Homo sapiens: one gene and its partners. The gene in region 2 interacts genetically with the main gene of each other region. Each region holds a gene or a part of one and is shown on either strand. Other genes may lie near its edges.

The links. Genes that interact genetically often act in the same process or in processes that back each other up.
Region 1: changes in ABCB7 (region 2) and MBTPS2 together harm fitness less than expected from each alone (positive genetic interaction), as found in Homo sapiens cells (one large-scale study listed by BioGRID).
Region 3: changes in ABCB7 (region 2) and NUBP1 together harm fitness more than expected from each alone (negative genetic interaction), as found in Homo sapiens cells (one large-scale study listed by BioGRID).
Region 4: changes in ABCB7 (region 2) and LONP1 together harm fitness more than expected from each alone (negative genetic interaction), as found in Homo sapiens cells (one large-scale study listed by BioGRID).

What each region holds. Positions count from the first base shown.
Region 1 is NC_000023.11:21,877,617-21,881,116, forward strand, and holds part of MBTPS2 (membrane-bound transcription factor site-2 protease), read left to right. Parts: intron 1-425; coding exon 426-520; intron 521-880; coding exon 881-1,076; intron 1,077-3,280; coding exon 3,281-3,356; intron 3,357-3,500. UniProt on the Homo sapiens protein: Zinc metalloprotease that mediates intramembrane proteolysis of proteins such as ATF6, ATF6B, SREBF1/SREBP1 and SREBF2/SREBP2.
Region 2 is NC_000023.11:75,149,784-75,153,283, forward strand, and holds part of ABCB7 (iron-sulfur clusters transporter ABCB7, mitochondrial), read right to left. Parts: intron 1-3,500. UniProt on the Homo sapiens protein: Exports glutathione-coordinated iron-sulfur clusters such as [2Fe-2S]-(GS)4 cluster from the mitochondria to the cytosol in an ATP-dependent manner allowing the assembly of the cytosolic iron-sulfur (Fe/S) cluster-containing proteins and participates in iron homeostasis.
Region 3 is NC_000016.10:10,742,490-10,746,641, reverse strand, and holds the start of NUBP1 (cytosolic Fe-S cluster assembly factor NUBP1), read right to left. Parts: upstream 2,801-4,152; 5' UTR 2,779-2,800; coding exon 2,760-2,778; intron 2,682-2,759; coding exon 2,577-2,681; intron 1-2,576. UniProt on the Homo sapiens protein: Component of the cytosolic iron-sulfur (Fe/S) protein assembly (CIA) machinery. Required for maturation of extramitochondrial Fe-S proteins.
Region 4 is NC_000019.10:5,710,147-5,713,646, forward strand, and holds part of LONP1 (lon protease homolog, mitochondrial isoform 1 precursor), read right to left. Parts: intron 3,108-3,500; coding exon 2,988-3,107; intron 1,857-2,987; coding exon 1,625-1,856; intron 1-1,624. UniProt on the Homo sapiens protein: ATP-dependent serine protease that mediates the selective degradation of misfolded, unassembled or oxidatively damaged polypeptides as well as certain short-lived regulatory proteins in the mitochondrial matrix.

The DNA.
Region 1 (3,500 bases), about 53 Mb from region 2:
GGATGTCTTAGGCAACCTCTGGCCCCCTCTGTTTACCAGCACCACAGTGCAGGGGTTCAGCAGTAATGTTGGATCATTGGCATTCAGGCACATAATAGTAGTTCATTAAATGTTTGTGCTTGACCAGCCAGACTTATTATTGTGAAACCTACTGAGACACTGCAACTCCGGCTTTATGGGTAGCTCAGTTTATATGAGGACAACTAACCTAGGGTAACTGCTGCTTCATGATTTAAAATTGAATGGATCTCTTTTGGTAATGTAAAATCAAACTGCAGCAAGTAGCCCTCAAGCTGAACTCTGAATTATACAGTTGCTTCTAAATTCATATGCCATTTTACTTATTCTTTTTGTCTTAAAGGCATTTTTTGTTACAAATGTATTTTTATATAAGAGACTCTAATAAACAGTGTATTTCTCTTTAGCATACAAACGACTAGATGGTTCAACTGAATGCTGTAACAATCACAGCCTCACAGATGTGTGCTTTTCCTACAGAAATAATTTTAATAAGCGTTTGGTAAGTTGTCCCTGAAGCAGTCTTGCTTGTCTGATATAATTACTAAAAAATAAGCATATAGAGCTAAAATGGAATCTATGGAAACTTCTCTCTTTTGCTCTATTTGTATCATTTTATTAAAATCTCTACATTTCACATGTCACATTTCATCTGAAAATCTTTAAAAATTTATAGTGATAATATCTTATTTGACCCAAATGGGGTACTTGAATCTATTTTATAGTAGATGCACATAAATGGCATTTCTTTTATATGAACCTCATTCCTGATATGCTAGGTGACATGAAAAATATTGAAGGAATGTAACTTAGGTTTTTCTTAATCATTTTTAATATTGACTGATTAATATTTTATTTATAGCATACATGTCTTCCTGCCCGGAAAGCAGTTGAAGCAACTCAAGTTTGCAGAACCAATAAAGACTGTAAAAAAAGCTCAAGTTCAAGTTTCTGTATAATACCTTCTTTGGAAACTCACACTCGCTTAATAAAAGTAAAACACCCACCTCAGATTGATATGTTATACGTAGGACATCCTCTGCATCTTCACTACACAGGTGAGTATTTTTGTGGTAGACCCTTAGAAAATCATTAAGATCACATATAGTCTCAGTGGTAGAGACTCACTACAAATCCTTGAATTAATACATTTATTATAAATTTGATCATTTATCAAAGTCTTGTTAACTTGTTCTTAAGCATTAAGTGAAAATTATGCAGTAGGAAAATAATCTGAATTTATAAAGTAAGGTGGAGCTGAATCCATGCCTGCCTATGGAGAGTGACACATTTTTCCTTCCCTACCATTTATGCCCAGGTCAAATAGGTGATCTCTCAGATGTCCTCTGAGAGTTTATTAAATTTATACAAGCTCCCCAAAACAGGCAAGAGCAACATACCCTAGAGAATGCCAGGATGCATGGGGATGTAACTGTAATTTATGTGTGACACATGACTTTCATATGAATATACTTTCAAAACTGGGCCAGCATAATCATTTTAGCAGTGGCAGCATCATTGGACTAAGTTCTTTATGGCTAAAGATCATGTAGTCTAACTCATTTTGTTGTACAAGATTTTTAAAATAGTTTACCATGCGATTTACCCATTAAAGTTTACAGTTCAGTGGGGTTTTGTTTGTTTGTTTGTTTTTGTTTTGTTTTGAGACAGATTCTCACTCTGTCGCCCAGACTGGAATGCAGTGGCTCAATCTTGGCTCACTGCAACCTCCACACCTCGGGCTCAAGTGATCCTCCCACCTCAGCCTCCCAAGTAGCTGGGACTACAGACGTGTTCCACTGTGCTGGGCTAATTTTTTGGGTTTTGTAGAGACGGAGTCTCACTTTGTTACCCAGGCTGATCTCAAACTCCTGAGCTCAAGCAATTCTCCCTCCTCAGCCTCCAAAAGTGCTGGGATTACAGGCAAGAGGCACTGTGCCCGGCCCAGTGATTTTTAATATATTGAGTTGTGCAACCATTACCACAAGCTAGCTGCAGAATATTTTCATCACCCCAAAAAGAAACTCCATAACCATTAAGTAGTCACTCCCTGTATCTCCCCAACACCCCCAGCCCTTGGCAATCTCCAATCTACTTTCTGTTTCTATAAATTTGCCTGTTCTTGTCATTTCATATAAATGGAATATTTTATGACTAGCTTCTTTGATGTAGCTTAATGTTTTCAAGGTTTATCTGTGTTGTGGCATGAATTAGTACTTCATTCTTTTTAAGGCCAAATGATATTCCTTTGTATGGATAGACCACATTTTCTTTATTCATTCATAGTTAATGGATATGTGGGTTTTATGTTATTCTTTTTTTTTTTTTTTTTTTTTGAGACGGAGTTTCGCTCTTGTTGCCCAGCCTGGAGTGCAATGGCGCAATCTCGGCTCACTGCAGCCTCTGCCTCCCGGGTTCAAGCAATTCTCCTGCCTCAGCCTCCAGAGTAGCTGGGATTACAGGTGCCCACCACCACGCCCAGCTAATGTTTGGTATTTTTGGTAGAGACAGGGTTTCACCATATTGGTCAGGCTGGTCTCAAACTCCTGACTTCAGGTGATCTGCCCGCCTTGGTCTCCCAAAGTGCTGGGATTACAGCGTGAGGCACCGCACCCAGCCTATGTCACTCTTTAAAAGACTCTCTCATTGCTCCATAGTCATATCCTGAGATACAACCGAGGTCATTTTTCTTATCTATTAGTTTGACACTAAATTACTGTAGACTGTAACTATGAAATAAAACCTCAACAAATGAATAAATGTCCCTAGTGGGGGTAATTCAGGAATGTGTACTGTGAGTTCTGACTAATTACAGGATAGTTTTAAAATGTTTTGAACAAAAACAGGATTATGGAATCCACAGAGTAGATGAGACTTTAAATCCCCTCATCTTAATCCTTGGTTTAGCCATGAAGAAAAAAAAAAGACCTGAAAGAGGTTAAGTAGTATAATAGTAGGAGTAAATGTAATTTTAAGGTTATACCTCTTTGAAAGGGTAAGGACTCTTAATGTAAATTTCTTACTCTCGCCTCAAAATGTAAGTACACACTGGGACGTATTTTTTCATTCTGCTGTTTTTATTAGATGTTCTAGAAGTATTGATTGCTTTTATATATGAGGTATATGGCCTGCATATGTTTAGGAAGGGCTTTCTCAATCAGTTTAATCTGCTAGCCCAATTTTTAACCATATGGTAGAATTCATAATGCTGTTGATTCTCTGGTATGAATAATATTTATTATTCCTTATTTTTCTTTTTCAGTGAGCATCACCAGTTTTATCCCACGTTTTAACTTTCTAAGCATAGATCTGCCAGTGGTTGTGGAGACATTTGTCAAGTATCCTTTCTGGTGTGAAACATGTTTTAAAAGTGTGTTACTTGGATCTTGATCAATTTTACCTTGAATACAGCATTACAAATATAGACCTCACAAGTATCACTTAATTGCTAACAACTAAAAAAGAGTCTTGAAAGATGAAAA
Region 2 (3,500 bases):
TTTCAGGGAACGGACTGACCTTTGAACTAACATTTGAAAAATAGGCACCAGTTAGAGAGAGGGCATTTCAGACATAGGGTGTGGCATAAAAAAAAGAACAGACACAAAAAAGCACATGGTCCAAGGAACAGGGAACAATATAGGGTGACTGGAGGGACAGGGTATTTGTAGAGAAACAGTTTACAATATGGCTAGCAATCTAGTTAGGTGGAAATTTTTAAGGCTAAGATATAAAGCCCACTGAAGTTTATGCAGGGAAGTGATGGGATAAAAGTCATGCCTTAGGAAGAATAATCTAGATGTGCTGTATAGGATGGATTGAAAGGGCAAGTCCCTGAAAGCAGGGACAAAACCCATGCATAAAGTAATAAGGGTCTAAAACTAGGGCAGAAGTTAAGGGACTGAAAAGGACAGAAGAGGCCATTGCTACTACAAAGAAATGTTCATCTACCTAACCGGATTACTGTGAAGACCAAATGACATTAAATAAAGACTTGAAAAGTATCTTTACTCACTAGTGGCAAATCCTACAAGGGAGTCAAGAGAGCACAGATGAGGACTTCAGGGAGATGGATTTCAGGAAAGGAAGGAGAAAATCAAAACAACAAAAATATCACATTTTGCAGGTAACTATATATACCTATTAACATTACTAAAATCTTAAGTAATTAAAAGACCTAATTTTGGTCAAGACTGAGCACCAAGAAAAAAAATGCTCACAAGTAAAAACAGAATTTAAAATTATCCCAATAATGTAAAAATTATGTACATGAAAGAACAGAGATTCAAAGGAAAAAGGAAAAATTATTTAACATGTGGGATTGTAGATATCTGTCTTGACGTTTTTATTAGATGTGGTTTTGTATAATTAAAATGGGGACAATGTAAAGCATAAGAATCGTATACAGAATGGGCAATTTTATCTCTTATTATATACCTTATTTTACAATATGGGAAAGAACATACTTTTCTTTGAAAAAGCAAAATCTTTAAGATAACACTGACAACAATACAGCAATAAATGATATTAATTTTATAACAATTGTATAACAATAATTAAATGATCAATTATGCATTTATCATTTAATCAAAATTTTGATGTAAGTTTCCACTCTATTTCTACCCCGCTGCCCAGTGACAAGTGCTCTTTATCTTGCCACTGGCTACTCAGGAACACCATTAGAAACCCACCAGCCAGCAATATTGTATTAATCAGGGATTACTGACTGGAAGAGGGGATAGGTTTCTGATTCCCCTGAAATTGCATGCAAAATGAAGCACATACGTATGTATATTTTTCTAGGGAGAAGGTCTATGGCTTTGATCAGATTCTCAAAGGGCCTCGTGTTCTAAAAGAAAGTTTAGAAACATGAAATTTTCTTCCTCTTCCTAATAATCTTAATAACTAGTTAAAACCAATGTGTCAATGACTTAGAGAATGTTATTTATTCAACTATATCTGAAAAAAGAATCCCCTGAATTCCTCTTCTCAAGTCCCAGTGCCACTTTCCATTCCTTACCATATACAGCCCATGTAAGGTATATCTTTATTTACAACTTTTATAGCATTACTGTTATTCTTCACCACCCCTTAGAATCTATTTCTACCATCCCAGATGATTTCGGAACCTAGCTTACTTTTTCCTCCACACTACTTCCATCCTCCCAACACTACCAAATACTAAGCTCATAATTAAATTACATTTTTCTATTCCTACTCTTAGATATACAAATATGACAAGAACAATACAAATTTGTCCCATTAAAAATTCATGTGAACATAAACTTACCCTATGTTGCTCCTGAATACTACACCAGTAGTAAACTAGGATCACAAAGTAGAGGTACTATATAAAAAGGGCTGGTCCTAAAGGATTACAGTAAAGAAACAAGAGAGTTGCAAGAAACCTTAGAGATCTGGTAGTCAAATATTACTAGTTTACAGGATCTGATGTCCAAAAGAACAAGTTATGTGTCCAAGATAATTAACAGTACAAATAGAGCTCAGGCGGTCAAGTGTCCTGGTCCAGTGTTCATCCCACAATACCAAGTTATGCCCTTTGCACACCAGTTATTTCATTATTTTTAACATTTAGAAATAAAAATCTTTTAAGTCATCTGTATTTTCTTTACAGTAAGGCTTACTCCTACCTCAAGACCTCTTAATAGTATTCAATATCATTCCTTCCAAGCTTACTGTGTGAGAACAATGTAGGGGACAATTAAAAGCCGTGTTGAAATCAAGATAGACTGTCACTCACTCATATGAATAATTGGTTTGGTATGTCTTGCTCTTTTCAAAACCAAGCTGGCTGCTTCCTAACAGCTCGTATTTTTCTAATGACAGCAAATTATTGTTTAATAATTTTAAAAGTCTTTATTGGTCTCCTAATAAAAGGACTATGCTTTTAACATTTGTGTCCCCCTAAAATTCCTATATTGAAACTTAATCACCAATGTGATGGTATTAAAAGGTGGAGTCATTGGGAGGTGATTAGGACTTGGAGAGTAGAGCTCTCATAAACAGGATTAGTTCCCTTATAAGAGGGGCCAAAGAGCTGCCTTGTCTCTTCTACCACATGAGGACACAGCTAAAAGGCACCGCCTATGAACCTCAAGACCTCACCAGACACTAAATCTGTCAGCACCTTGAACTGTGAGAAATAAATTGCTCTTGCTTATAAGTCATGTAGTTTATGGTATTTTGTTATACCAGCCCAAACAGACTAAGATAGACTATTAGTCTAAGAAATTATTTCTCATATGCACATTAAATCCCTCTTCCTGCAAATGAAGTCCACATCTTTGTATCATAACCTAATGTTCCAGTTAAGTTTAGGCATCACTGAACTACAAATAACCCCTTCAGGTCCTTTTTTTTTTTTCTTTTTTTTGAGAGGAAGTCTCGCTCTGTCGCCCAGGCTGGAGTACAGTGGCGCGATCTCGGCTCACTGCAACCTCCGCCTCCAGGGTTCAAGCAATTCTCCTGTCTCAGTCTCCTGAGTAGCTGTAGTCACAGGTGCACGTGACCATGCCCAGCTGCTTTTTGTATTTTTAGTATGGACGGGGTTTCACCATATTGGTCAGGCTGGTCTCGAGCTCTTGACCTCAGGTGATCCACCTGCCTTGGCCTCCTAAAGTGTTAGGATTACAGGCATGAGCCACTGGGCCAGGCCGCTTCAGGTACTTTAAATGTCACTGAATCACCTCTCACCCTTTTCAGTTCCATGATCTATAATCCACTTAAAGACACCCTTATTTCTCTTGTAAGTTCTGTTTTTGTTGTTGTTGTTTGTTTGTTTGCTTGTTTTTGAGACGGAGTCTTGCTCTGTCGCCCAGGCTGGAGTGCACTGGCGCGATCTTAGCTCACTGCAAGCTCCGCCTCCCGGGTTCACGCCATTCTCCTGCCTCAGCCTCCCGAATAGCTGGGACTACAGGAGCCCGCCACCATGCCCGGCTAATTTTTTTTGTATTTTTAGTACAGACGAGGTTTCACCATG
Region 3 (4,152 bases), on a different chromosome or scaffold from region 2:
AGCCTCCCAAGTAGCTGGGATTACAGGTGCCTGCCACCATGCCTGGCTAATTTTTGTATTTTTAATAGAGACGGTGTTTCTCTATGTTGGCCAGGCTAGTCTCGAACTTCCAACCTCAAGTGATCCACCCACCTTGGCCTCCCAAAGTGTTGGAATTACAGGTGTGAGCCACCATGCTCAGCCTGGAGACACTTTTCATTGTCACAGGAGAGGTACTGCTGGCATTTAATGGGTACAGCCCAGATTGTGCTAAATGTCCTACAATGCACAGGACAGCCCCCCACAACAAAGAGTGATCCTGCCCCAAATGTCAGCAGTGCTGAGGTTGAGAAACTCTGATAGACAGCAGGCACATACTAAGTATCTGCCAATGAAACTATCTTATTTCAAATCCTTAAAACAATACACGAGGTATAAAGGAAATTAAAAAGTCTCATGACTGGCCAAACTCAAGTGAAAGTTAAGCCTGGAAACCTCCCAACACTGCTGTCCTCCTCCCCATCAACAGACAGCTGTTACTTCCCAACCTTGTGTCAAAGCATTCTACATTAACCAGACACCTGCAAAAGGCCAAAGGCCCCATGCAATCCATTGTGGGATGACTGCCCTCACAAGTTGCTCCTAAGGAACTCCTTTGCTGGCCCCTAAATCTTTGAAGATGAGTATCCTCCCATAAACAAGGACATGCCAACTGTAACTTTAGGACTGTAACCTCAGTCTAACTCCTTCCCTATTACTGATGTCTGTTAAACGCCACACTGACCATGTCCATTACAAGCTTATCCTCCCACATGCCAAACAAAGATGGGATGAGATAGTCCTTCCTCTCCTACCCTGAGACGTCTGCCTAATTAATTCTTCCTTTATTCCCTCTTTTGAATGTTTACTTTATTTTCTGAATAGTGTAGATATACTGGGCACGAATTAAAACCTCACAAGAATGTAACTACCTGCCACGAGGCCTACTGCACTTTTTCCTGCATGCTTTTTCCCCTTTTAATGAAATATATAAACACCAGCCTTCTGGAACCACTCCATCGAGCACAGGCCACAGATGTTTCTGTCACTTGTATTTTCCAGGGCACGCCCTCAAGCTCTGGCCCAATAAACCTCCACTGAGGCTCAGTTCAGTCTCTCCATTGCATTGACAGAGATAACTATTTTTCTCTTCATTTTTTTTTTTCTTTGAGACAGGGTCTCACTCTGTCACCCAGGCTGGAGTGCAGTGGCACGATCTCAGCTCACTGCAACCTCCACCTCCCGGGTTCAAGTGATCCTCCCACCTCAGCCTCGAGGGCGGGCATGCACCACCATGCTGGCTAATTTTTGTATTTTTAGTAGAGACAGGTTTCACCATGTTGGCCAGGCTGGTCTCGAACTCCTGACCTCAAGTGATCCATCCACCCGCCTCGGCCTCCCAAAGTGCTGGGATTACAGGCGTGAGCCACTGCACCCGGCCTGTCTCCATTTTTGATGAGGAACCAGAAGCTCAGAGAGGTTAGGACTATTGCTGAAGGTCACACCGCATGGATCCAAGAATCAAATCCAAGTCTCTCTCTGAACTCCTTCAAGATTCTCCCCCTTGGCCAGGTGCAGTGGCTCATGCCTGTAATCCCAGCACTTTGGGAGGCCCAGGCAGATGCATCACTTGAGGTCAGGAGTTCGAGACCAACCTGGTCAACATGGTGAAACTCTGGTTCTACTAAAAATATAAAAATTAGCCAGCCGTGGTGGCAGGCGCCTGTAGTCCCAGGTACTCGGGAGACTGAGGCACGAGAATCGCTTGAACCTGAGAGGTGAAAGTTGCAGTGAGCCGAGATCACACCACTGCACTCTGGTCTGGGCTACACAGCAAGACTCTGTCTAAAAAAAAAGGGGGAAAAAAAAGAAAAAAAAATATTGTCCTCCTGCCTCCTGCTTTTTAAGGTCCTTCTGAGCAGGCTCCCTGGGTCCTCTCATCCTGGAATCTGTGCTTCACAGCACTTAAAGCTGCGGTGGTTTAGTTGCTAGCTCACGTGTTTGTTTCCCCAGTAAAGCTAAACTCCACTAGAGCAGTGACCACGCCTGATCCCCAGCTGTGTCCCCAGGACAGCACCAAACCTACGAGGCGATCAACACATTTCTGCTGAATGAGTGGGAGAATCACTCCTCAAAAGGAAGAAAATTGTGTCAAGAAAGTAGCTGGCAGAGCCAGGATGTAAGTCCGAAGACTCCCCGACTTCGAAGCTTATCCCGTTTTTCTCTGCGGTCTGTTATTGTCACTCAAACCTCTGGCCCCGACCCTCTTAATTAATGTCCCTTTCGACTCCGCGCCGGTCAGTCTCCACCCTCCATCCGCGCCAGGTCCTTCGCGCTCGCCTTCTAAAGGCCTCGTTCCTGTCAGTCATTCCAAGCTCCGCCCTCACCCTGCCCACTTTCCACGCCCCGCCCCTTCTGGGCCCCACCCCTCTCCGAATACAATACCTTCTAGCCTGCCGCTGTCAGTCATTCTGCAGATCCCGCCCCCTCCCTCCCACGCCCCGCCTTTTCCGGGCCTGCGCCTCTAAGTTCCTGTTGAGGCCTTGCCCTTTTCTCACCCGTGTCCGGAGTGGCCCCCGCTCCAGAAGCGCACAGCCGCTGGTTGGGGCATCCCTGACATGAAGCCCCTCTGCCCGCCTGGGCGCTGTCGGCCCCTGGACAGTCTGCGCAGAGACAAGACCACAGTTAGAGCAGCTCCCGACACTTTCGCCCCGCGACCCACGCCCCCTCCGCGAGCTTACCGTGAGGCACCTCCTCCATTCCGTCGCCTTTGCCGCCTTCGTGGTCACCGGAACCCGCTGTCGTACATTTCCGCCTTGTGGGCACAATCTGATTCTCCGACCGCGCGAAATAAGTCTCGGAAAGGGGGCTGTGCGCACGCGCGAACCTTGGGCCGAAAGACTGGGACTCAACGTCTGTTCCTTTTCAGAGATTTCCTATCATAAATACTTCTGCAGTGCATCTCCTAAGAACAAAGCCATTCTTCATGACATCAGTGCCATTTTCATACCCAAGAGATTTAATATCGATGCAGTACTAGCCAATGCAGTATTAGCCAATAGACAGTTTATATTTCAATTTCAGTTGTTAGACCCCCTCCCCTGCTGGATTCACTCACTGCCTGGAGTTATTTCTCTTCGGTCTCCTTTAATTCAGATCAGTCCTTCTTTTTTTAGGGGGGGTCTCATCACCTTGATAATTTTGACGGGTCCAGACCAGTTGTGTAATAGAATATCCCATATTCTTGATTTGTCTAATCCTCCCCTCCCTCTTGCCTTGTAATTAGATAAAGGTTAATTTTTCTTTTTTCCTGCAGAACACACTTGGATAATGTCAGTTTGTCCCGTTTTTGGTAATGTGAAGCTTGATCGCTTGCTAAAGGTGGTGTCTGCCCCATTTCTCCATTTAATGTTTCCTTCTTCCATTTGTAATTAACAGGTACTCTCTGGGACCATCTTCTTCTCTATCAGCCTTTCACTCAGTGATTTTAGCAGCATTTATATATATATATATAAAACTATAGATTATATATATGATAAATATATATCAGTTTTATACCCTCTCTTTTTTTCTTTTTTTTCGAAGACTCACTATGGATTCCTGGATTTTTTAAAATTGTCTTTTATAATCAATTATTATTCTTTCTGGTCGATTTTTTTTCCCCCAGATGTGGCCAGTGAAGCCCCTTCAAGACAGTTCTTATGTTCTTTGGGCACTAATCCAGCTTCTTTGAGCATTTTCTTGCTTTCTGATACAAGATGTTTCAGTCATCCCTTCTCCCTGCTGCAGTCATTTCTTCAGGGAGCCTTGGTTACTTTTTAGCAGACAACAGTTCAGAAACCAAGATGTGGATGCCACAAATGCTCATTGCTACTGGAGTGTCATTGCTCACAGGTTTGGCACCTGGAATATTAATGAGTGAACAAACTTTACCTAGCCCCAGACACTAAGAATATGGAAACGTTTATTTATTTATTTATTTTTGAGGCGGATTCTCGCTCTGTCACCCAGGCTGGAGTGCAGTGGTGGGATCTCGGCTCACTGCAAGCTCCGCCTTCTGGGTTCACGTCATTCTCCTGCCTCAGCCACCCGAGTAGCTGAGACTACAGGCCACCACGCCCGGCTAATTTTTTG
Region 4 (3,500 bases), on a different chromosome or scaffold from region 2:
AATCTCGGCTCACCGCAACCTCTGCCTCCCAGGTTCAAGCAATTCTCCCGCCTCAGTAATCCCGAGTAGCTGGGATTACAGGCATAAGCCACCACACCTGGCTAATTTTTTTTTGTATTTTTAGTAGACACGGGGTTTCTCCATGTTGGTCAGGCTGGTCTCAAACTCCTGACCTCAGGTGATCCGCCCACCTCGGCCTCCCAAAGTGCTGGGATTACAGGCGTGAGCCCACCGTGCCCGGCCTGAATTTTTTTATTTTAATTTTTAGATACAGGGTCTCACTCTGTTGCCCAGGCTGGAGTGCAGTGATGCGATCACAGCTCACTGCAGCCTCAATCTCCTGGGCTCAAGCGATCCTCCCACAGGTTAGACCACTGGTGTGTGCGACCATGCCCAGGGATTTTATTTTTTTTGTGGAGACAGGGGTCTCAATATTGCCCAGGCTGGTTTTGAACTCCAGGGCTCAAGTGATCCTCCTTCCTTGGCCTCCAAAAGTGTTGGGATGACAGGCATGAGACACTGTACCCAGCCAATAAAATGTTCCATTCTGTTCCTTGGCCACAGCAGCTCTACTTCAAGTGCTCAATACTCACAGGTGGCCGGGCACAGTGGCTCACGACTATAATCCCAGCATTTTGGGAGGCTGAGGTGGGCGGATCACCCGAGGTCAGGAGTTTGAGACTAGCCCGGCCAACATGGTAAAACCTCGTCTCTACTAAAAATACAAAAATTAGCCGTGTGTGGTGGCACGTGCCTGCAATCCCAGTTACTTGGGAGGCTGAGGCATGAGAATCACTTGAACCTGGGAGGTGGAAATTGCAGTGAGCTGAGATCGTTCCATTGCACTCCAGCCTGGGTTGACAGAGCCAGACTCTGTCTCAAAAAAAGAAAGAAAAAAAAAAACCTCGCAGGGGTAGTGGGGCAGGATAGAAGTGCTGACCTCAAGAACCCAGGTGGGCCTGTGGACAGGACTTTCCACCCCTGCCAGCGCCCACAGCAGACATCACCAGTTGCTCACAGCACTTCCCCCTAGGCCCTGCAGCAGCCTGGGGAAGAGGCTGATGACACCAGGCACACAGGTAAGGAGCTGACACGCTTCAGGCCTTTGGTTAGCTTCGCTGACTGTCCCTACAGCGGGAGGGCAGGTGGCACCGCCAAGAGCCTGCCCACCTCGGAAGCTGACTCCTTGTGCCACCAGGCAGGCAGGACGGCCTAGGTTGGGGGATCAGGGTGGCCAACAGGCTGTTTCCTGTCCTGCAACCACTGGTACCAACCTCCCAGGCTTGGTGGGAAGAAGCCAGGGCTGGAAGGTGTCTTGGTAACCGCTGGAGGCTTTGGCACAGGGGACACGGGCTGGGGCTGGACCTGGGTTCCAACCCTGTCTCCTTCCTGAGCAGCTACAGGCTCCAGCGAATTTCCTGTGCCTCTCCCATCCCAGAGTCTTCCGAAGACCTCTGGGAGGAAAAGCACCCTCTATGTTCCATTAGAATTGAGTTCCAGACAGGCCAGACCCTTCCTAAGGGGCTCAGGGTGGGAGATGACTCTTCGGAGAGGCCGCAGGAACGGCTCAAGGGAGCCCGTGGGGGAGGCAGCTGTGGCCGCCCTGCGTGACGCACGGACTCACTTTCACCTCCTCCGTGACCTGGAAGTCCTCGTGGACAACGTTCTCTACCTCCACCATGAGCACCTCAGCCGGGAGCTCAGGGGTGGGCTCCATCGCCAGCTCCGCCGGGTGCCTGGCGCTCAGCTCGTCCTCCGCCTCCTTCTTGCCCCGCTTTGACTTCCTGCGGGGCTTGTGCTTGTTCTCCGCCTCCGGCTCCTCGGGCTCCACCTCCAGCTGTCTGCTGATATGGACTCTGACACGGGAGCAAGGCAGGTGTGAATCAGCCGCTGAGGCTGGGAGCTGGACCCGGCTGAGGCCTCCCTGGTGGCACAGGTGGTCCAAGGGTCCCGCTGAGCCCAGACCTCTGGAGCCACAGGGTGGCTACAGGGTCCTCAAGCTGGAGACGTGAGCCGCTTTCTCGGGGCCTCCCAACCAGTGTCCCCTCCACCCCTTAGACTCCAGCCAGATTCAGGCATTCCCTGCATCCCACGCCAATGCATCACTGTCCCCATCCTAAGTATCGTGGATAAGCTGCAGTGACAAGCCCCAGGGCCTCCTGTCGAAAACGGTGTCAGCCTGGCCGGGCACAGGCTGGTCTCCAAGACTCTGTGCCCTGGACTCAGCTCATAGCAGCTCCTTCCTGTTGTTCAGGTCTCGATTTCAAGGACACCATCGCAAAGACTGTCCCCAAGCACTTCACAAAAGCTACCCACCTCCACCTCTCACGCTGTCTGCGTCTCCCCTCAGAGCACCTGGCACCACCTGAACTCAGGGTCTCGCTCTGTTGCCCAGGCTGGAGTGCAGTGGTGTGATCATAGCTCACTGCAGCCTTTACCTCCTGGGCTCAAGCAATCCTCCTGCCTCAGCCTCCCAAGTAGCTGGGACTACAGGAACACGCCGTCACATCTAACTTTTTATTATTTTTTATAGAAACAGGGTCTTGCTGTGTTGCCCAGGCTGGTCTCAAACTCCTGGGCTTAAGCGATCCTCCCACCTCAGCCTCTTGCGTAGCTGTGACCACAGGCATGAGCCACCACATCCAGCTAATTTTTCTACATTTTTTGCAGAGATGGGATCTCGCTACGTTGCCCAGGCTGGACTCAAACTCCGGGCTCAAGCGATCCAATTGCCTTGACATCCCAAAGTGCTGGAATTCCAGGCAGGAGTCACCATGCCTGGCCCTGCAGCTCACCCCTTTCTGAGACAGGAGGGGTCCAGAGGTGACATGTCTCACTCTCACCCCCAGCTCTGGCCTCAGTGCTAGTGAGAAAGCCGCTGGGCTGACGGACAGGGCAGAGGCTGATGCTGGGGCATAAGGCATCCTGGCTGGTCTCCCGCGTGGTACTCTGCCCCCACCTCCCACTGTCCCCCGCCAGCCACCCACCTTCTGTGTCCCATGACGATCATGCGCAGCTTGTCCCCAAGGTCCTGCATCTCATGGATCTGGGCAAACGTCCCCGTGTGGTAGATTTCATCCAGGCTCTCGACCACATCCGACTCATTGCTGTGGGAGAAGAGCACAGAGGAATGTTGGAACATGGCTTTCATGCTAGGCAGGATGTCTCTGGCTGAGATGGAGGAGGGAGAGAAAAGAAACGCCCCTACCAAATGCTACTGAAAACCAAGAGCGGCCTCCTTGGCTCCCGCAGGAGCTCCAGAGCCTAGGGGAGCTTCTGCCAGGCCAGGGCTGCCCCAGTGGTCACAGGACCGGGTGGGTGGCTCCTCGCTAAGTCAGCCACAAAGACATGGTCCAGGTGGGACTTTGATGAGTCTCTTCTATGCTATCACAGAGCCTGCTTCGAATGCATGCATGGAACTCTTTTTTTCTTGAGATGGAGTTTCGCTCTTGTTGCCCAGGCTGGAGAGCAATGGTGTAATCTCAGCTCACTGCAACCTC